Linked DNA regions of Homo sapiens. The protein of the gene in region 2 interacts with the protein of the main gene of each other region in a pairwise test. Each region holds a gene or a part of one and is shown on either strand. Other genes may lie near its edges.

Region 1 (7,024 bases), on a different chromosome or scaffold from region 2:
CTGTTGTTGTTGTTGTTGAGAAAGGGTCTCTCTCTGCCATCCAGGCTGGAATGCAGTGGCTCAATCATGGCTCACTGTAGTCTCGACTTTCTTGGGTTCGGATGATCCTCTCAGGTCAGTCACCTGAGTAGCTGAGACCACAGTGGCTGATGCCTCCACTCCCGGCTAATTTTTTTGTCTTTTTTATAGAGGAGAGGTTTTGCCATGTTGCTCAGACTGGTCTTGAACTCTTGGGCTCAAGCAATCTACCCATTTTAGCCTTCTAAAATGCTGGGATTACAGGTGTGAGCCACTGCACCCAGCTGTAAACATTTATAGATAAAAGTATTTGCTTCAGAATAACCTACGCTGGGCCTAGGAACGGAAGAGAGCATGCAGGTAGCAAGATTAGTTATGTATTGATAATTGGTAAAACTGGCTCGTGGGTAAATCAGGCTCATTATTCTTTTCTCTCTATTTTTGTGTATGTTTGAAAATGTCCAGAATGAGTTTTTCGAAAGGGGATGGTGTGCAGCCCTAGGCTCATCTGAACTGCATGTTCTCCACAAAGATTGCACAGTTTGGGGTATGGGTATTGTGTCCGCCACCTGGTAAGGATAGGGGTCTTTCCTAATCTTTCTTAGACCTCCATCTACAAAACTCCAGGGTTTTGGTTGTAACTATAGCCCATTATCTCCACTCTTTGTTCCTCAGCTTTTCCTGTATTCGCTACACGACATTAGAAAATGTGGAGACTCAGCTTAATTTAAATGGACATATTTAATGATTAAGCCCTGGAGTCCTAGTATCTATTCTCCTCCCCCTACCCAAAGGGTTTTCTTTTCTAACTTTTAGTCAATATCCTACTCCTGACAAAACTGTATCCTTGCAATGGTGCTGGAGCATGTGGATTATAAGCACACAACATTCCCAGTCTTTCCAAACAGACCTCTGTGGGGAGCTGCTGGCTGCTCCCAACAGGCGTGACCTGTTAAAACGGGGCAGACTGGCGACAGAGTGAGACTCTGTCTCAAAAAAAAAAAAAACGGGGCCGACTGTCCCAAGTGCACCTGAGTGCATTGTGCTCTATGCATTGGCGGCAGCATAACACGGGGCCAAGAGCTCAGGCCTGGACTGAGACCTGGTTTAGATTTCAGCTCTATTGTAATCTCAGCCTGTCTGTGGTCTCGAGAAAGCTACTAAACCTCTCTGGATCTCTTTTTTGTTATCTGTAATATGGGAATCATCATAATATTTACCTCACAGCTTTATTGTAAGGATAAAGCCTGAAAATGCTGAGCAGAGGGCCAGTTACCTAGTCAGTGCCCAGTAAACTAGTCCACTTATCAACCATGGTGGCATGCATAATGAATAGATCCATCCATCCGGGCATGCATGATGGTCAGATCTACCAGAATGTCCAAGCACTCTCTGAATGAAAAAGCCTGGACATGGCCTGCTGTGGCCTCAGGGTATGGGCTCTCAGCTCACATCAGGCTGGCACTGGCCTCTGTATGAGAGTCCTAACCTCTGCCCTCACACCCTCCCACATGCCCATGTCAAGCTCCACAAGGTACCTGTGTCCTCTGGGGAGCCATAGGAGGGGCTGCCCTGGGATAAGGTAGCCCAGCTTGAGTCCTCATCACTGGCTGCACTGTTCCGCATGCCAAACAGGAGGCTGGCACTCTTGCTGTGTTCCCGGGGGCCATCTGTAAGGGCTTGGGGCCTGGGAGGGGCCTCCACACTCTCCAGGGGCTCAGGCAGCCCTGGGGGAGAAGATAAGTCCTCCTCCTCCTCTTCATCATCATCATCCTCCTCCTCCTCCTCGGCCTCCCCGGCCGCCTTCTCCTCTCCCTCATCTGGCCCCTGCTCTTGAGTGCTGATGATCAGGCCAGGTCCTCGTAGGCCTCGGTTGGCTGCGTTGTGAGCTGAGAGCTCCAGCTCAGAGTACAGGTGTATCAGGCCTTTGGGGCCCAAGGGTGCCATCTCAGGCTCCTGGCTGGCCTCCTCCGCCAAGGTCAAGGTCACATTGCGATTCTGGTCACGGTGGGCCGTGGCGGCCCGCCGGAGCTGGTTCTGGCCCTCTTTTAGCCACTTGGCATTGGCAGGGCCTGGCTCAGGCCCACCACCCTCCCCCATGGCGCTGCGCAGGTCCTTGGGTCCCACAGCTGTGGCCTGCAGCTTGGCGTTGAGCAGCTGGTTGTGGGCAGCGTGCAGAGGCAGGGGTAGGCTCAGTGCGGGGCCTCCGTGGCTGTTGGCATTAATGGCCGACTGGCTCAGTGATGATGGAACAGACATGGCCTTGGCAGCTCCTGTGGGGTGCGGAGGGGAGATGCTGTTGAGCCTCTGGTCCAGAACAGCAGCATCACTGCTTCTGCCCCAGGGCTATGCCCTGTGCCTCCTCATCTCCCTGCACTAAGCAGGCTAGCACCCATGGCTCTCTATCCTATGAGAATGACTGGGTTCAACTTCTGTCCCAGCACTATCATCCCCATCACAGTCCAGGCCCAGGTCTGAGGCCCACCCCATCCCTATATCCCCTGCCCTGAGCTTTCTGGGATGGCACAGCTGGCGCCTGCCCTCGGTCCCACCAGCAAGGCCTCCACACAATGGCTCTCTGTGCCTCCCCACCCCCCAGCTCATCCACCCGGGGCTTACTGTGCCAGGAACACCACTAGAGTGGGACCGGCTCGTGTGTTTTGGACACTGATCACTGACTGCCCCTCTCCGGCCGCACTTCCATCCCAAGCCCCATCACTGTAAGCTCCTCCGGCTGTGTTCCTATTCCCATAAATCACTCAGCTCAACCAGCCCCCAAGCCCACCCCATACTAGGGACTGTGAGGACAGGAGCAAATAAGCTGCAGAACCAGCCCTACAGGGCATGGCACTGGAAGGCAGGTCACAGAGGGAGGGCGCTCGGCTGCAATTCATGGCTTCTCTGGCCAGATGAAGCTACATCTTGGTGACAATTTCCATGAAGTAGCTCCCCTTGGGCACTGGTCCCTCTGCCAGCCCTCATAATGCCCTGTCCTGGATCACTATGGGAGCCTTTCCCCTGGGCCCCTCAGCCTTTCAGATCTTTGTTTTTTGGGGGTTGTTTGTCTGTTTGTTTGTTTTTGAGACAGAATCTTGCTCTTGTTGCCCAGGCTGGAGTGCAATGGCACAATCTTGGCTCACTGCAACCTCTGCCTCTCGGGTTCAAGTGATTCTCCTGCCTCAGCCTCCTGAGTAGCTGTGATTACAGGTGCCCACCACCACGCCCAGGTAATTTTTGTATTTTTAGTAGAGACGGGGCTTCACCATGTTGGTCAGGCTGATCTCAAACTCCTGACCTCGTGATCCGCCCACTTCGGCCTCCCAAAGTGCTGGGATTACAGGCATGAGCCACTGCGTCCGGCCCAGCCTTTCAGATCTTTGACCAAATGTCACAGCCTCAGTGAAGCCTTCCCTGAACACCCATTTTAAAACCACAGGCTACCTCCGCCCCTCCTCAGCAATCCCTAAACTCTTCCCCAGCGCCTGTCACCATCTGACAAGCCAATTTATTATTTACTTTGTCTAATGATTGTCTCCTCATGACTATAATTTATAATTTCCATGTTGGTGAGGATTTTGCCTTTTTGGTTAAATACAGTATGCCTAGTGCCTAGCGTAGTCCTGGCACAGAGCAGGAACTCCATTAATATTTGCTGAATGAATGTATGAATCAGTCCCCATTTCCTCCAGGCTTCGCTTTGGCATCTCCTCTGCCAGTGTCAGAAAACACTTTGGTTACGTTACTATGCCTTATGGTGCCCCAAACAAACTCCACCTGCCTCTCAGGTAAGAGGACGTCCTGTTCCGCAAGGACAGCTCCCCCTCCAGACCCCTCCCTCTGCCTCCTCACAGCCCTTCGTGGGTCAGTTTCTCCGCAACCATTTGAGTCCCAACTATCCTTCCAGCCCGCCACCCAGGGACCCACCCTCGGCCCCATTCCATCCTCCCCACTCTCCCTGACCTTCCAGTTGCTCTGCTGCTCTCCTTCCCGGACCCCCAAGAGAAAGTGCTCTCTCCCTGGACCCTCACCAGCCCCCGATTTCAGTTATTTCTCCCTGACCAACCACTGCCCACTTCTCTCTCATCCTGAGCCCTCCATGCAAGCCCTCCTTCAGACAGCCCCTACCACATTACTCTCTCCTCCCTCGATGGCCTCACTGATTCTCTTGCCCTACCCGACCCTTCCCCCAACAGACAATTCTCCCTCACTGACCATCCCAACAAACACTGCACTGTGCTCTTTCTCATTCCCACTGTACAGACCTTTCTCCTTGATGTCTTATCTGAGAGTTCCCTATCTCCCTGTTCCTCTACTAAGGAGTTCTTTCTTTCCCTGACTCACCACTACCCCCCTTCCCTCTGTGTTCTCAGCGCTGAGCACAGGTCTTGCAGCTACCTGAGCAGGGCTTGCCCATCTCTCCAGGTGCGGTGCGCCCAGGCTGGAGTGCAATGGCACGATCTCAGCTCACTGCAACCTCCTGCAGCCTCCTGAGTAGCTGGGATTATAGGTGCCCACCACCACGCCCAGCTAATTTTTGTAATTCTTTTTTTTTTTTTCTTTTAAGTAGAGATAGGGTTTCACCATGTTGGCCAGGCTGGTCTCAAACTCCTGACCTCAGGTGATCCACCCGCCTCAGCCTCCCAAAGTGCTGGGATTACAGGCGTGAGCCACCGCGCCCGGCCCCATAGCTCACCTTTCTACGTCTCTAGTTCCTCAGACACTAGTGCTATGCTACCCACACATCTGTAAGATGAAAAAGGTTTCTGCGCACGTGTCTGCCTCACGTGGGGCTGTTGATCTGCTCAGTGTGACTCCTCCTGGCCAATGAGAAAACTCACAGCCACTGGAATAAATGAAGAAAAAAATAGCTCTACCTCCTCCCAGAACCACAGTAATCTTCCAAAAATGGAAACCAGATTGTGTCACTCCCTGGTTCAGAAAATGAGAGGGCTCACCACTGCCTTTCGGATAACGCCTGCACTCGTTCGCAGACACCCAAGAGCCCTCTTAAGCCGGCCTCTATAACCTGTCAGTCCCCTCCCCACCTCCCGCCTCCTTTATACCTTATACTCTAGCCACATGAAGCGTGGCGGATTCTGAAACATGTCGCACACTCTTAAAGCCCTGGGTCTTTGTTTATACTGCTCCCTCGGCCTGGAATTCTGTCTCCCCTTGTGAGAACCTCTGCTTGTATTTCAAAACTAACCTCAGCAGTTACAGCTCCTAAGCAGTCTTTCCTGTTCTCTCCCCACCATCAAGTGACTGTTCTCTCCTTCGTGTCTCACAACACCCAGAACCACATTCTATCAGAATATCTGAGACGGTGTCTTATTCAATTTCACATTCCCATTACCAAAGAGAGTGTGCCGTGTGCCGACACAGACTGGGCTGTTGCAGAAGGAAAGGACGGATGAACGGGACAGACACAGGGGGTGGGAGGATCCAGGAAGCTCAGAACTGGCTGGGAATAAATACCAAGAAAGGCTGTGTGGCCCAATGGGCTGGGGAGGAGCAAAGGGAGTGTTTGGGAGGGTGTCAGAGAATGCCAAAGGGTCCCTGAGTGGGAAGTAAGATGGGACAGGAATCCTGGAGAGGTGAGGGCTGAGATCTAGGAAAAGGGAGCGAGGGAGGTAGCTTAAACCAACATCTTGGCACAGACACTGTTCAAGAGTGGCATCTCCATGGGTGTCAGGAAGCAGAAGACTCCACGACTCTGCCATGCTCAGAGGACCTTAAGGATGGCAAACCCTTCTCTGAAGCAGTAGTGTACAGAGCCAGGTTTCTCAAAGGTCAGGCAGAGACCAACCTCCTAGGCACTAGGAGATATGATCTGAGAAGAGTGCATGCACTGTGAGGCTGAAACAGTGAAGAGCCAAGTTGACCTCAGGGCAGCCCCGCCAATCTGGTCACCAGGGCAGGAAGTATTAGAGGAAGAATGGTGAAACTGTTTAAGTGCTGAAGCCTGAGCATCTAGCCTGAGGTGGTGTGGTCACCAACACCCCACTGCTCGAGGTCAAAAAGATGATCTCAGTCCAATTTTTTAAAGAAGGAACACAACCTAATCTCTCCCCTCTCATTGGAGTTACCAAAGGATGCAAAGAGCCAACTGGGTTCTGGCTCAAGGCAGGGAGTTGGGCAGGGGCCTCGGGGCAGGAAGTGAAAGAAGTAGTCACTAAGCCTGAAGATCCTGGCATCAGACCACAGGGGTTGGGGTTGAGTCTTGCTCAAAGTCAGGAGTTGTCTAATCTGACAGCTTCCCATATGCCAGGCACTGTGCTAGACACAGGGGAGAGTGATGAAGACAAAAGAAATGGTTCTTCCTCTGGAGGAGTTCTCAGTTCAGCGGGAAACAGTCATTGAACAACTTGTTACAATGCAGTGTAACACCAACATCTAGAACAGTGCCTGGCACCCATAGCATTCCCTATTTGTTGACTGAATATCATGAAGGAGGAAGAGGAGGGCATTACAGGAACCTGGGGCTTACTACAGCCAAGACATCAGCAAAGGCCTGCCTGAGACTAGGACATAACTCTCCATTGGCCACCCGTCTCAGAGGCTGATCTCCCCTCCTGATTCACAGAGGAAAGGGAAGCCATCCAACTGGGTAACATCCTCAAACATAAAAACCTAACCAAACTTCAGCACCTATCCCTTTCTCTCCTTCCCAAAACCAACTGCTTCACCTATGATTTGGATTCTTCCTATGATGCCTTTCCAGGAATTTTATACCACTGTTTATCTATTTTCTCCTCTATATGATCAACCTCTCCTTCTCAATAGGATCCACGGTCTCCCAACTTGACCTGACGCTCCTCCAGATCCACTCACTGCTCTCTTTCCTCCCCCATACAGGCAAACTTCCTGAGAGAGTTGTCTCCACTCACTGTTGCCACTTCCTCACCTCCCACTCACTCCTCAACCCTTTCCAAACCTGCTTCCACTCCCAACACGACTCAGTAACAGCTCCTACCAAGGTCAACATGACCCCTGTGTCATTCAATCC
Region 2 (7,790 bases):
GATAAAGTCAGAAAAGTACTGGGCGCAGGCTGCATCTGGATTTGACTTCATAGGGAACAAGAAAACATTAAGTGATGGAGTCTGTTTACTGAGTTTGTATAAGTGGGTATGTGTGAGAGGGTGGGGTGCTGAAGATGTGAGGTAAAGATGTAGGAGTTTTATGAGACATCACAAAACTATTTACCAAGAGTTGGGAATAAAAGCAGCAAGCTCAGGGTGAAGGTTATTAGCTCTTTGTGATTCTAAAGTGCTATCAGGACACTTAATAGAAACACACGCAGATAGTTGGAAACAGTAAGACTGGAAAACCAAAGACATCAAGATTAGAGAAAGCAATTTTGGATAAATCTACAAAGAGGTGATATAAAAAACTAAAGTACAGGAGATCTACTAAAGATTTAAAGAAGTAGGCCACATGTAATCCAAGTGACCATCTATTTTGGAGAACAGTAAGAGCCAGAGAAGTAAGAAAATCACCAAGTACCAGTTGTTAGAGAAATCAAGAGAAGAGAATTAAAGAATCTGGTGGGGAGAGTATCACAGTGCTGCAAAGGGGAGAGAACACAGAAGAAGACCTTAGACGAATAACTTTGAAGAATGCAGCTTGAGTAATTTCAGGATAAAAATTAGATTGCAGGAGTAATGTAAGTAGTCTATTGAAGGTGATCAAGAAACAGACAAAATGAAAATGACTCGAGGTTTGGGGATAAAGATATGAAAAAAGGGATGGGCATATGAAGAGAACGGAGAAAATATTTGAGATGGATAGACAGTAACACATGAGGGGAAGAACGCAGGGGTTGGGGAGACAGAGGATATAAAAGAAAAAGGCTAACAACGAAAAAAGGTTCCAGAAGCAGTGAGAGGAGACAGTAACAACAGACAGACAAAAAGGGAGGAATCCTTCCTACTCAAATTAAAGGATGGGTGAAAATACAGAAACACAAGGAGGAAACTGTGTGTTAGGGTTGGGGAGCAAAGGGTGCATATCAAATGGCTTCAAAGTTTTCATAAAGTAGGGGGTCTGGAATCTACAAAGAGGTAGGGGTTAGAGGACCAAAGAGCAAAACTGATTTTTAGTAAAATGGCAGGATGTGTTAGAGGATATATAAGGAGAGATGAGGGCAAAAGAGCATCCTCGAGCAACTAAAACATCCTGTTACACGTAACAGGTTCATATAGATGTTAATATATATTTAGTCCAATTACACTACATTTCCCTTACATAGCACAATAAGTAATTTGTGTTTAAAAAAATGATCTGTCGGCCGGAGGCGGTGGCTCACGCCTGTAATCCCAGTACTCTGGGAGGCCGAGGTGGGTGGATCACCTGAGGTCAGGAGTTGGAGACCAGACTGCCCAGCATGGCGAAACCTCGTCTCTACCAAAAAATGCAAAAATTAGCTGGGCGTGCTGGCAGGCGCCTGTAATCCCAGTTACTTGGGAGGCTGAGGCACAAGAATTGTTTAAACCCGGGAGGTGGAGGTTCCAGTGAGTCGAGATCGCGCCACTGCACACTACAGCCTGGGCGACAGAGCAAGACTCTGTCTCAAAAAAAAAAAAAAAAAAAGAAAAGAAAAGAAAAAAGATCTGTCAACCATAAAATGATTTTTTTTTTTTTTTTGAGACGGAGTCTTGCTCTGTCGCTCAGGCTGGAGTGCAATGGTGCGATCTCGGCTCACTGCAACCTTCTCCTCCCGGGTTCAAGCGATTCTCCCGCCTCAGCCTCCCGAGTAGCTGGGATTACAGGCACCGCCATAGTGCCCAGCTAATTGTAGGAACGGGGTTTCACCATGTTGGCTAGGCTGGTCTTGAACTCCCGACCTCAGGCGATCTGCCCGCCTCGGCCCCCCAAAGTGCTGGGATTACAGGCGTGAGCCACCGCGCCAGGCCCGTAAAATGAAATTTTAACCATAGATTCTAAATTGCGTATTCACAGAGTAACTGAGACGATTGCAACTTATTTAAAACTATGTGTAAATCATCTTGAAACAAGTTAATGAGAAAGATCACATGATTAAAACAATAAAAAATGTTGCTTGAGGAATAATGCACAGACGGAATTTAGAAAAAAGGAAAGCCAGAACAACTGCAGACGGTTCTTTTCGCTTTTGTATAGGACTGAGCTCCTCTTCCGGACAAAAACCAGGAATAAGGGAGGTCTTCTTAGTAAAAGCAAAAGTAAATTGTCTTAAAAAAAAAAAAAAGGTTGCAAGTGATTTGGTCTTTCCAGAAAAGTCAATACCATGTCTAACAGTGGTCTCTACTACAATAACCTGAAGGTGCTAATGACCCTCACAGTAAAATAAGCTAGCAAATGGCCACACCGTAGAGCGCCTACATTTACTGCCAATTAAGTCCAACTGCCGCTGTCTTAATATTTTCGCTTTTTAATGAATCCTCTCTCTAGGTATTCCGATCCATCCACCGGTAACACGCTGATACTTCGAAATACTGCAGGCAGGAGTGGACGGGGGAGAAGCCCCCCCCCTCCCCGGGCTTCTTTCGTGTTCGGGCCTCTGCTGCCGCGATCCACGGAAGCAAGAATGAGTTCCATCGCTTGGGGCTCACCAGCTAGAGGGCTGGCGGAGGCTGCGAGGGGCAGAAGTAGCAGCAGGCTACTGGGTGGGCAAGCGGTGTGTACCGCAGCTGTGGAGGACATCGACGCGGAACGCCCGGATTGAGCTCAGAACACACCGGCCCCGCCCGGGACTCATTCTACAAGCTTCTTCGGAAGAGGCGCCCGCCCGGGAGGAAGGGTCTAACCCCGGGCTCCACCGGGAGGAGATAAACTACTCACTGTCAATGTCCTCGATGAGGCTGGCGGTGCCAGGCATATAGTTCATTTTGAACTGAAATAATGCTGCAATGCACAGCGGCGGGAGGCCAGCGCGTCCAAAACCTCTTCCCTCCTACCGCAGTCGCCGCCTCGGTGGGACCAAGCCCGGAATCCCGACCGAGACCAGCACTTCTGCCCCGGCTTTCAGCCGCCGGGGGCTGCCGGAAGCTCCTCCATATTACCCTTACCCACTTCCTGTAACACGTGTGGGCCCCCAGGAAGAGGCGGGGCAGCCGTACCGTTGGGGGACACCCTTTCCCTGTTCCTGTTAAGTAGGTAAGAGGAAACTCCATTGGATAAATGGCGAGGAAACGTATACTCCCTCTTAAGGAACACGGTGTCTTCCTTCGTCTCCGGGTTCCCGAGACCCCAGAGTCACTGACCTCCGTCCCTCAGCTTTCGGGGTTCGGCAGCAGAAGGGGCGGGCCCGGGCCTGGGATTGGCTGGCGTCGTCCGACCCCCTTCGCTGCTCTCCATTCGCAATCGCCCGCGGGCGCCTGCGCGATGGGTCGGCCGTGGGGAGCGGGGCGGGAAGCGCTTCAGGGCAGCGGATCCCATGTCGGCCCTGAGGCGCTCGGGCTACGGCCCCAGTGACGGTCCGTCCTACGGCCGCTACTACGGGCCTGGGGGTGGAGATGTGCCGGTACACCCACCTCCACCCTTATATCCTCTTCGCCCTGAACCTCCCCAGCCTCCCATTTCCTGGCGGGTGCGCGGGGGCGGCCCGGCGGAGACCACCTGGCTGGGAGAAGGCGGAGGAGGCGATGGCTACTATCCCTCGGGAGGCGCCTGGCCAGAGCCTGGTCGAGCCGGAGGAAGCCACCAGGTAAGCTTTGCACCCTCTGTCCTTGCGGGGAGGTGAGGGCCCTTGGGGCTGGGGTTCGTAAAGGATCGGGTTTCATACTTGTTTTCCTTATGTGGAGGAGGGTGTGTTGCGGGGGGTGTTGGAGAGACCGAGACTAAGATCAGAGGTTGGGGGGACATGCTTGTGTTCCCTTTGCCCCTCCTTTTCTGCTTCGACCCCAAAAAATATGTTTATTACCATTTAAAAAAGAAAGATCCTGCGCGGACTTACTAAGCTTAGCAGCAGGCTGCAGATCTCTCTCCTGGGAGCGGTGCTGGGTAGGGGTGGCACGGATCTACTGCTCCAGCTCTAGCAATTTATCCTGCGTGGCTGGCAGGCCGGCTCTCCCGGGGAAGGGAAGTGGCTGCAGCCCCCGATGCCGCTCAGGGACCCTCCCGAGGGGAAGGAACCTTTGCGAGGAGGAGGGATCTGGGCATTTAGCTGTTTGCCCCTAATGCCTTGCCTGAGATCGAATCATGAATAATCAGTGTTGTAAAGTACCTTTACGCGGATTGACTGATTTAATTTTCACGGCGACTGCAAGGTAAAATGGCATTACAGCGGCCCTTTTTTTTGTTTTCGAATAAGGAACCGGGGCTCTGCGAGGTTAACTCACTTGCCTAATACACTTGGACCTGCAACATTTTATTCTCCGTTTTCCTGCCGGACATATACTTCTGCTTTGTTAATACAGTCTTCTGGGTAGTGGGTTGTCGTTCTGCGGTGGCAGCATACCTCTCTGTTCGTTCAAGAATTATCCTCATTTGTTGAAAATGTAATAGTGAAATTCTCGTACATTGCTGGTGGGGATGTAAAATGGTGGAAAATAGTTTGGTAGTTCCTCAAAACATTAAGCATTAGAATTAGTCTATGACCCAGCAAGCCCACTCCTGGCTATATACCCAAGAAAACTGATAACGTATGTTCACATAAAGCTTGTCCGCCCATGTTCATAGCATCATTATTCATAATCGCCAAAAAGTAGAAATGTCGTTTTTTTTGTTTTTTTTTTTTTTGAGTTGGAGTCTCGCTCTGTTGCCCAGGCTGGAGTGCAGTGGTGCCATCTCGGCTCACTGCAACCTCCGCCTCCCGGTTTAAGCGATTCTCCTGCCTCAGCCTCTCGAGTAGCTAGGATTACAGGCGCCGGCCATCACACCCGGCTAATTTTTGTATTTTTAGTACAGACGGGGTTTCGCCATGTTGGCCAGGATGGTCTTGAACTCCTGACCTCAAGTGATCCCCCTTTCCCCTGCCCCTCGGCCTCCCGAAGTGTTGGGATTACAGGCGTGAGCCACTGCGCTCGGCCCCAAATGTCATTTTATTATTTGAGTTATAAAGTGAGTGAACCTCTTGGAGCCCTGGTTCTTTATTCGAATACAGGAATGTTGTAAGGACATAACGACTGATGCATCGATAAACAAAATATGGTGTTAATATATTCATTCAATGGAGTATTATTTGGCCTTAGAAAGGAATGAACTGCTGATGCATGCTACAATATGAATGAACCTTGAAAACATCACACTACGTGAGCTAAGTCAGTCAGAAAGACTGCATATTGTGTGATTCCATTTATATGAAATGGCCAGAGTAGGTAAATCTAGAGACAGAAAGCTTAATGGTTGCCAGAGGTTGGGGGACTGGCGGTGTAGGTGAGAATATTCTTTTTGGGATAATGAAATGTTCTAAAATCAGGGCCTGGTGAGATGGCTCACACCTGTAATCCCAGCACTTTGAGTTGCCGAGGCTGGAGGATTGCTTGAGTCCAGGAGTTCGAGACCAGCCTGGGCAACATAGTAAGACCTTGTCTCTAAAAATAAAAAAATAAAAAACAAAAAATAAGAAATGTTCTAAAATCAGTGGTGATGGTTGCACAACTCTGAATATACTAAAAACTACTGAATTGTACATTTTAAAAGGGTAGAGTTTATAGTATGTTGATTATATCACAGTGTAAACAATTGTATGAGAAAAACATGGAGCAGTGATAAATTATTTTTTATTTTTATTTTTTATTTTTGGGACACAGTCTTGCTCTGTCGCCCAGGCTGGAATGCAGTGGCGCAATCTCAGCTCACTGCAACCTCTGCCTCCCGGGGTCAAAGTCTCCTGCTTCAGCCTTCCTAGTAGCTGGGATTACAGGCGCCTGCCACCATGCCCAACTAAATTTTGTATTTTAAGTAGAGACGGGGTTTTGTCGTGTGGGCCAGGTTGGTCTTGAACTCCTGATCTCAGGGTATCCTCCTGCCTCGGCCTCCAAAAGTGCTGGGATTACAGGTGTGAGCCACAGTGCCCGGCCAAGATTAATTATAAATTAAAGAAAGATCCAGCTGGGTGTGGTGACATGCCTGTAATCCCAGCACTTTGGGAGTCCAAGGAAGGCGGATCACCTGAGGTCAGGAGTTCGAGACCAGCCTGGCCCACATGGCAAAACCCCGTCTCTACTAAAAATACAAAAATTAGCTGGGCATGGTGGCGGGCGCCTGTAATCCCAGCTATTCGAGAGGCTGAGGCAGGAGAATCGCTTGAACCCAGGAGGCGGAGGTTGCAGTGAGCTGAGATCACACCATTCCACTCTAGCCTGGGAGACAAGAGCGAAACTCCATCTCAAAAAAAAAAATAAAGAAAGAAAGATCCATATTTTCTCAGCCTAAATCTGGAATACATAGGTCATGGGACTATAGAATGGTGAAATGCTTGGCCAAATTAGACCAAAAATCAGTTGAAGTGGGGAAAGAGGAGAGGACCTCTAAACTGATGACTGACTTTTGCTGGGCCTGCTGTATTATCAAAACCAAAGTCTGTTTTCTGGCATAGAGTTAGGGAGGGTTGGATAGACTAAAGAAGTTAAGATTTTAGCATTGTGTAAGGGGTTGTCAGGTGTGGTTTGAGTACATTTGTGCCCACAGGGTGGGTGATGGTGCTGAAGTAGTTGGAGATAAAGGTGGAAATGTGTAATGGGCATTTGTAAACCATTTTAATAGTTTGTACTATCTTTCAGATTGATGATTCTGAAACTTTAAAAGTATAGGATGGTAATTTTTCTGCAGCAATAGAAAACTCATACCAAAGATATGTATGTTGGCCGGGCGTGGTGGCTCACGCCTGTAAACCCAGCACTTTGGGAGGCTGAGGCAGGTGGATCACCTGAGGTCAGGAGTTCGAGACCAGCCTGGTCAACATGGCGAAACCCCACCTCCACTAAAAACACAAAAATTAGCCAGGCATGGTGGCGCATGCCTGTAATCCCAGCTACTAGGGGCACTGAGGCAGGAGGATCATTTGAACCCGGGAGGCAGAAGTTGCAGTGAGCCGAGATCATGCCACTGCACCCCAGCCTGGGCAGCAAAGCGAGACTCCGTCTCAAAAAAAAAAAAAAAAAAAAAAAAAAGATATGCATGTTGTCACAGATGTTGCAATGTTTTTTCCAGATTTGTTATTTTGACTTTTTTTTATGTTTTGCATTTTTATAGTATACATCTGTCAAATTAAAAAAACAAACAGTATAGGAACCTTTTATAACCTTGCTACTCAAAAAGTGTGGTCCATGGACTAGAAGCCTCGGTGTCACTTGTGAGGTTGATAGAAATGCAAAATCTCTCCTCTTCCAGACTTACTGCTGCAATTTATTAAGATCCCCAGGTGATTCATATGCACATTAATATTTCAGAAGCATTGCTCTATAGAACTGATTATATTTAGATGATGTACTGAACTACAACACAGACTTGACTATATTAACACATTTAAGTATGGCAGGGAAAAAATTAGAAATCTATCACTATTTTTTTTTTTTTTTTTGAGACCGAGTTTCACTCTGTTACCCAGGCTGGAGTGCGGTGGCCTGATCTCGGCTCACCGCAAGCTCCGCCTCTTGGGTTCACGCCCTTCTCCTGCCTCAGCCTCCCGAGTAGCTGGGATTACAGGCACCCGCCACCACGCCCGGCCAATTTTTTTGTATTTTTAGTAGAGACGGAGTTTCACCGTGTCAGCCAGGATGGTATCGATCTCCTGACCTCGTGATCCGCCCGCCTTGGCTGGGATTACAGGCGTGAGCCACCGCGCCCAGCCTTTTTTTTTTTAAATTTTTTTTTGAGACGGAGTTTT
Region 3 (6,962 bases), on a different chromosome or scaffold from region 2:
GAATCTTCCCTAAATATGAAGGGCACTTAGAGGGCTGGAGCCTTGCATGTATAAATAGAGCAAGACACAGAGCTCAGTCATCACCTCATTTGATTCCCACAGCAGCCGTCTAAGGCATTTATAATGTAACGTACCTGTAATTATCAGGTACATGTTTCTAAATGAGAGATCCATAGGTAATATAAGATTTATATGTCTTTAAACTGTGTTTCAAGTGTTTATTAATTGCCCCCATTTCCTATATAAGTTGATTGGCAAGTTCCTTGCTTCTTACTTTTTTTTTCCCTGAAACATAGGAAACACATGTATTCATTTTGGAAAAGTGAGAAAAAGTGGATAACCAAGAAAAAAATAAAGAAATTTAAAAGTACCAGTAACTATACAACATAGAAAAAGCACATTCTGGTTTTCATTCATTCATATATATATATATATATATATATATATATATATATATATATTTCATATATATTATATATAGTGTGCATACGTACACATCTAAATGAAATAGTCTATCTGTAGACTGCTTTTAAATTGCTTTATTAACTTTACAGTATGCAATAAACATCTTTCCATGAAAGTTGATGAAAGTCCTCTTCTGACAGAAAAACTTACAGACTAGGTCAAAATGCAATCTCCAATCAGAAAATTGCAGAAGAATGCCAAAAGGTTCACATTAAAGGTACACCAGGAAAAATGCGAATTTAGAAAGCAGGGATTTTATGATTATTAACCTCAAGATTCAAGGCATAAGGCAAAACTCATCATGATGATCATGGTGAGGAGGGTCCCCTATAAGAATGCGCAGACTGTACCTCAACTGAAGTTCCCTAATTTTCCTCCTTAGCTCTCTCATCTCCTCCATGAACCGTTCCATATCATCTCCATCTCCATCTATCATATCAATGTTATCGACAAGCCTATTGGGCACATCCTCTCCAAAACCCGGGGCAGGTGGAGCCCAAACCCCTTTAACATTTCCTCCAGGCTCCTGGTATTCACCACCTCCTAAAGCGGGGGCTTCATTCTGCACTGGGGCCTTCTCCACAACTTTGTTTTCCTTGGGGACATTTTCCATGTTGAGTTTTTTTCCTGTTTTTTTTTTTTTTTTCTTCCTAGAAGATAAAAAGCAAGAAGAGGGAATGAATGCTTGATAGGATTCAGAGCTCTGTTTGGCAAAGGTTTTCCCACCTGAGAAACTTTATGAACCCTGTAGGGGGCGCCCCAGACCCAGCGCTGCCCCAAAGCCCATCATTTTCCCTGAAAATCCCTTCCCCAGGCCACTCCTACCGCCAAAATGCAAGACGACTTAGCGGAGGGGGACGATCATAGAGAGACCAGACTTCACCTCCCTGGGATCCTAATAAGCTCTCCAGGAGCGCCCCAGATCTCGCCCCTCTACTCCCTTCTTCCCTCATCAGATACAGGCTGTCATTTTATGAAGACTCTCCTAAGTTTCTCCTGCACTCAACTCGGGCAGGAAGGGCTGTGAGTCACCCAGATTCTGCTCTGATCCTTGATACCCCTACACCAGAGGGCCCCAGGCAACCTCCTACCTTCAGGGATCAGAGGCAGTCTTTCTCTCTTAGCCTTGAAATCGGCTGCACAAACGCACTTAAAGACCTGCAGACAAATGTGACAATTACCAGGACTGATCTTTTAATCAAAGGACCGGTAATGGGAGTTGATTTAGGGTTCTCCTAGTATTAGCACCTTCTGTTTCTCCTCCATCCTGTCTCACGGCTTCTTTTCCCACCCTGTGACAGGCTATCCCACCTTCCAGAAATAGGCATCAAAGATGATTATTTCCAAAACGTTTTAACCTCTTCTTTAGGCGCCCATCTCTACTGTTTCCTCTTACCTGTCATCTAGTTACCCTTTCTGCAACGCAGGCAACTTGCCTGGCGGGGGAGTTAGAAGAGCTTGCTGAATGAATACGTAGTTTATTCACAAAGAATTTCAATCTAGATATCCATCAGGCCCTCTCTCCACCCGATCCCCACTCCCATGCCCACCATTTTATGCATCAAGATGGACGATGAGTGAAGAGGTATGTGGGCATTGAAAACTAGGACCTGCTGCGGTCTCTGCGCTTTGTCATTCTCACTCCAGGATCTACAGGTAGCGCCCACGCTTACACCGACCGACCTGCTGAGACCAAAAACAGTTTCTCGCTCCTCGCCTCTGTCCCTCAGTCAGAAGCTCGCCCGCTCAACTGCCGCAATAGGGACCTGCTTTCCAGACCTAATCTCTGTCCCCCTCCTCTGCAGCAATTCCTCTCCTCGGCCCCCGCAGCCTATCATTTCCAGCTCTAAATGGGTAGAGGGTGAAGAAAAGATACCTAGAAGGCAGGCCTAAAACCTTGGCAGGGTCCGCCCTCCCCAACCCTTGGTTGCCGGCTGTACCTCCCTCCCGCGGACCTGCAGGAAGCAGGCTGTTTCCTTTCAGTCTCCTCCACCGGCTGGACTCCATCAGACATTGCCCGATGGCCGGCCTCCTAGGAGATCTCAAATGGTACCCATTCTCAATCCAGCCCCCTCGGGAGATCCTCTCCCCAACCGCTCCATTTCTCGCACTAAACGGGTGTGTATCTGGAAAGGGTGTGTATCCAGTCCTAGACCCGCTCTGGTCTTTGCCCTCTGCTGCTCACACACCGGTCAGCGCCACCTACCTGCCAGGGCTCAGGGGTCAGCTTCTACCACTTTCCACCTTTCCTGGGCAGCTGGCTCGCCTGCCTTCAGGGCAACAGCGAGCCGTCACACGGCCAGCGACAACTACCAGACTGCAACTAGGAGGAGGGACTAATCCACGCATTGGCTCTGGGTCTCCTAAGGGTCACGTCACTGTGAGCTCAGATTTCCAATTACCATTCACACCCGCAGTGCGGCAGGAGGGTGGGGGCGGGACTGTGGGCGGGGCCACCTTTCTCTTCATTCGTGCTTTCTCCACCACTACCACAGGCTACTATCCACCCCTCTATTTTTTTATTTAGCGATCCCCACGACCAAACGGGTCATAATATTTTGTATTTGGCTTGCTCTGGTTTCTGCTGGAGCTTTTAAAAAATCGCTTCTTCCTCTTCTATACACCTAAACGCACACTTCTCTCCCCTTCACGTCCAGCAAGTAAAGCCCTAACAGTCTTGTAGGGCTTGGTCCCAGATTGGAACCCGGAGAAGGGGTGGGGAGCGAGAGGCTAGGAAGTCTGGAAAATAGGCAGGAAGTGGTATTCAAATTTTTTTTTCACTTCAACTACTTTCCTTTTTGTTTGTTTATTTGGGAAGGGGGTTCCTTTTATTTTTCATCAGCATGCATTCATTTTGTTGTTGTTTTTATAACTAGACAATACAATTATTTTCAGTTGAAAAAACAGGATTCGAGTTGTAAAAACATGGCAATCTGTTTCTCCTGCTGAATCATATTATAAATATAAACCTTCCAGAAAGCATTCCCCTGCCTCCTTTAAGGACTTTGAAATAAGGCCGGGAGCGGTGGCTCGTGCCTGTGATCCTAGCACTTTGGGAGGCCGAGGTGGGTGGATCACGGGGTCAGTAGTTCAAGACCAGCCTGGCCAAGATGGTGAAACCCCGTCTCTACTAAAAATACAAAAAGTAGCTGGGCGTGGTGGCAGGCGCCTGTAATCCCAGCTACTCGGGAGGCTGAGGCAGGAGAATTGCTTGAACCTGGGCGGCAGAGGTTGTAGTGAGCCGAGGTAGCACCATTGCACACCAAGCCTGGGCGATAGAGTGAGACTCTGTCAAGAAAGAAAGAAGGAAAGAAAGAAAGAAGGAAAGAAAGAAAGAAAGAGAAAGAAAGGAAGAAGAAAAGAAAAGAAAAGAGGAAGGAAAGAAGGAAAGAAGTGATTTTCTCGTGAAGGATCTCTACATGTCCTTCCGTGAAATGATGCATTGAGTCTAATAGAGCCTCTCTGGTGGATTTTCATGTCTTGAGAACCTGTGACAAACTGATGATCTCCTCTAAATTGTATTAGTGTAACCACAATTTACAATAACACCTAGCCCTGATGATTCAGGACAATAATTTGGGGAAGCTACCCTGACAGATGAAAATGTATTGTGATGGACACATAGAGGGGAACAACACTGGGGCCTACAGGAGGGTGGAGGATGGGAGGAGGGAGAGGATCAGTTTACCTATATAACAAAGCTGCACATGTATTCCTGAACTTAAAATAAAAGTTTAAAAAGTATTGTGAAATTACAATGTTAAGATAATAGTGTACCAGAATAAATTTAGAACAAATGAACCAGAAAAGAAATTCAATTATCAAACCCAAATATGGAAAAAATGCTAGTAAATGCATTGAAATATTTTGAATCAGTGGGGAAAGGTTAGATTGAAGAAATTGTATCGGGATAATTGACTATTTTCAAAAACAATGAAGTGCCTTATCATTCTCATACACTTAAAAATAGACACTAAATGTTTGCATAAAAGACATTAAACCATTAAAAATAGAACTTAGCATGTTATTTTTTATATAATAGAATGGAAAAGTTGTTTTAAATACAGCACCAGATCCTGACAAGACCAAAAGGCAACTGGCTCAAATCTGCTGGGGACCCTCCAAGTCTCAGAAATGATTTAGAGTGCTCCTCAGAATTATCCTAACTAGTGATGAGAAGTTGGGGTATTTTTCTACAGACTTGGCCCTCTATTGGTGGATGTCACGCTGAGGATGTTAAAATCTCTGGCACTTTTAAGTTGTCCTACACCTGGGCTGAGCAAGTTCCCAAGGTACCAGAAAAAGCCCTCAGCAAAATTAGAAAACACAGGTAAGGTAGAAGGATAATATCAGTTTTATCCCCGCTACAGGAAATATACTATTCACATTTTACTCTAAATCAGTCCAAATATCTCCCTTCAAAAACAAAGATAATACACACATATTCATTTTCTTCTTCTTCTTCTTCTTCTTCTTCTTCTTCTTCTTCTTCTTCTTCTTCTTATTATTATTATTATTATTATTATTATTATTATTATTATTATACTTTAAGTTCTGGGATACATGCGCAGAATATGCAGGTTTGTTACATAAGTATACATGTGCCATGGAGTGATTTGCCGCACCCATCAACTCATCATCTACATTAGGTATTTCTCCTAATGCTATCCCTTCCCTTGCCCCCCCACCCCCAGACAGGCCCCAGTGTGTGATGTTCCCCTCTCTGTGCCCATATGTTCTCATTGTTCAACTCCCACTTATGAGTGAGAACATGTGGTGTTTGTTTTTCTGTTCCTGTGTTAGTTTGCTGAGAATGATGGTTTCCAGCTTCATCCATGTCCCTGCAAAGGACATGAACTCATCTTTTATATAGCTGCATAGTATTCCATGGTGTATATGTGCCACATTTTCTTTATCCAGTCTATCATTGATGGGCATTGGGTTGGTCCCAAGTCTTTGCTATTGTACACACATATTCATTTTCATATTTATAGATGTTTGGGTTGTTTGTAGTGTTCATTATCATAGATGATGTTGATTGAACTTCTGTGTACATAAAATTTTCATACTAATATCAAATTTTGAAATTTCTAGAACAGTCGTTTCTATATATGTGTGGATATTTTTCAGTGTCATAGAAGTCAATCCTGAAAAATGTCCAAATTTGGTATCTATAATGTATGAGAATTCCTGCTTTTTCATGTCTGCCAATGCTTAATATTGCCTGGCGTATTAATCGTTTTCACACTGCTGATAAAGACATACCTGAAACTGGTCAATTTACAAAAGAAAGAGATTTATTGGACTTACTTTCATGGGGCTGGGGAGGCCTTGCAATCATGGTGGAAGATGAAAGGCAAGGAGAAGCAAGTCACGTCTTACACGGATGGTGGCAGGCAAAGAGAGAGCCTGTGCAGAGAACTCTCGTTTTTAAAACCATCATATCTCATGATTCTCATTCCCTATCATGAGAACAGCGCAGAAGAGACCCACTCCCGTAATTCAATCGCCTCCCACTGGGTTCCACATGGGAATTGTGGGAGTTACAATTCAAGATGAGATTTGGGTGGGGACACAGCCAAACCATATCACCTGGTTTATTTTTTTTAACTATTATTGTATTTTATTTTTTCTTTTGTTTAATTTTTTATTTAAATACACTTCTCAAGGTCACCAGGTAATGTTTTCTAAACTTAACACATCATAAGAAGCACTTGGGGTTAAGATTTTTAGGCTCTTTCTCTAAAGATCCTAGTTTAATAGATTAGAGTCAGGTGTGAAAACCTGCATTTAAGAAGCTCCTTTGACATAATTTTTAATATCAGATAGAGTTGGGAAACCCTGTCACAGTTAAAAAACAAAATGAAACAAAGAAAAAAGATCTCCCATCATTATGTAAGTGATCTTTTTTTAAAAAAATTATTATGAAATAATTTCAAACTTATAGAATGTTTTTGAGAAAAACCCCACATGCCCTTCACTGCATTTCCCAGTTCTCAGTTTTGCTATATTTGCTTTCTCATTCTCCCTTCATATTGAAGAATACATTATTATTTTTTTCTGAACCATTTGAAAATCAATTGAAGACCAAATGGTCATTTAAAAATATTTAGTGCAATTGAGTCCATATTATTATATCATTAATTAATATAAACTGAAAAAACTGAAGTAATCACAAATGGTGGAGCAGCCATACATCAGGAATTTTTAGCTCAGTTAAAAATTTATAAGATAATCTGGCGCCATGAAAATGCACCACTTAGATCTCCTGCTGTGGGAAGTATTGTTGATTGATGGTTCTAGTTGCTGACCCTCTGAATCCACTAGCACATTCATGCTGAGGTCATGAATCCCATGGGCTGATCCTTGCCAATAACTAGCACTATTCAGTTGCATTTCTGTAAGTTACAGGGCTTCTGTAATTGAAGTCTTTGGCTCCACAGCTCCCCTTCAGCCTAGCTGAAACCTTAGGATTATGTGACAGTCTAGGGCTCTTC

Evidence for each region. Proteins that work in one complex are often made in the same cells at the same time.
Region 1: the proteins of LSM1 (region 2) and APBB1 interact in binary tests that used the Homo sapiens proteins (3 or more experiments, as listed by UniProt).
Region 3: the proteins of LSM1 (region 2) and BEX5 interact in binary tests that used the Homo sapiens proteins (3 or more experiments, as listed by UniProt).

The regions. Positions count from the first base shown.
Region 1 is NC_000011.10:6,409,071-6,416,094, forward strand, and holds part of APBB1 (amyloid beta precursor protein binding family B member 1), read right to left. Parts: intron 2,292-7,024; 5' UTR 2,278-2,291; coding exon 1,557-2,277; intron 1-1,556. UniProt on the Homo sapiens protein: Transcription coregulator that can have both coactivator and corepressor functions. Adapter protein that forms a transcriptionally active complex with the gamma-secretase-derived amyloid precursor protein (APP) intracellular domain.
Region 2 is NC_000008.11:38,173,475-38,181,264, forward strand, and holds the start of LSM1 (U6 snRNA-associated Sm-like protein LSm1), read right to left. Parts: upstream 3,020-7,790; 5' UTR 2,847-3,019; coding exon 2,801-2,846; intron 1-2,800. Other genes in the region: BAG4 (BAG family molecular chaperone regulator 4), read left to right, coding at 3,396-3,665. UniProt on the Homo sapiens protein: Plays a role in the degradation of histone mRNAs, the only eukaryotic mRNAs that are not polyadenylated. Probably also part of an LSm subunits-containing complex involved in the general process of mRNA degradation.
Region 3 is NC_000023.11:102,153,188-102,160,149, forward strand, and holds BEX5 (protein BEX5), read right to left. Parts: upstream 2,791-6,962; 5' UTR 2,672-2,790; intron 2,604-2,671; exon of another isoform or gene 2,406-2,603; intron 1,624-2,405; 5' UTR 1,557-1,623; intron 1,116-1,556; 5' UTR 1,079-1,115; coding exon 743-1,078; 3' UTR 525-742; downstream 1-524.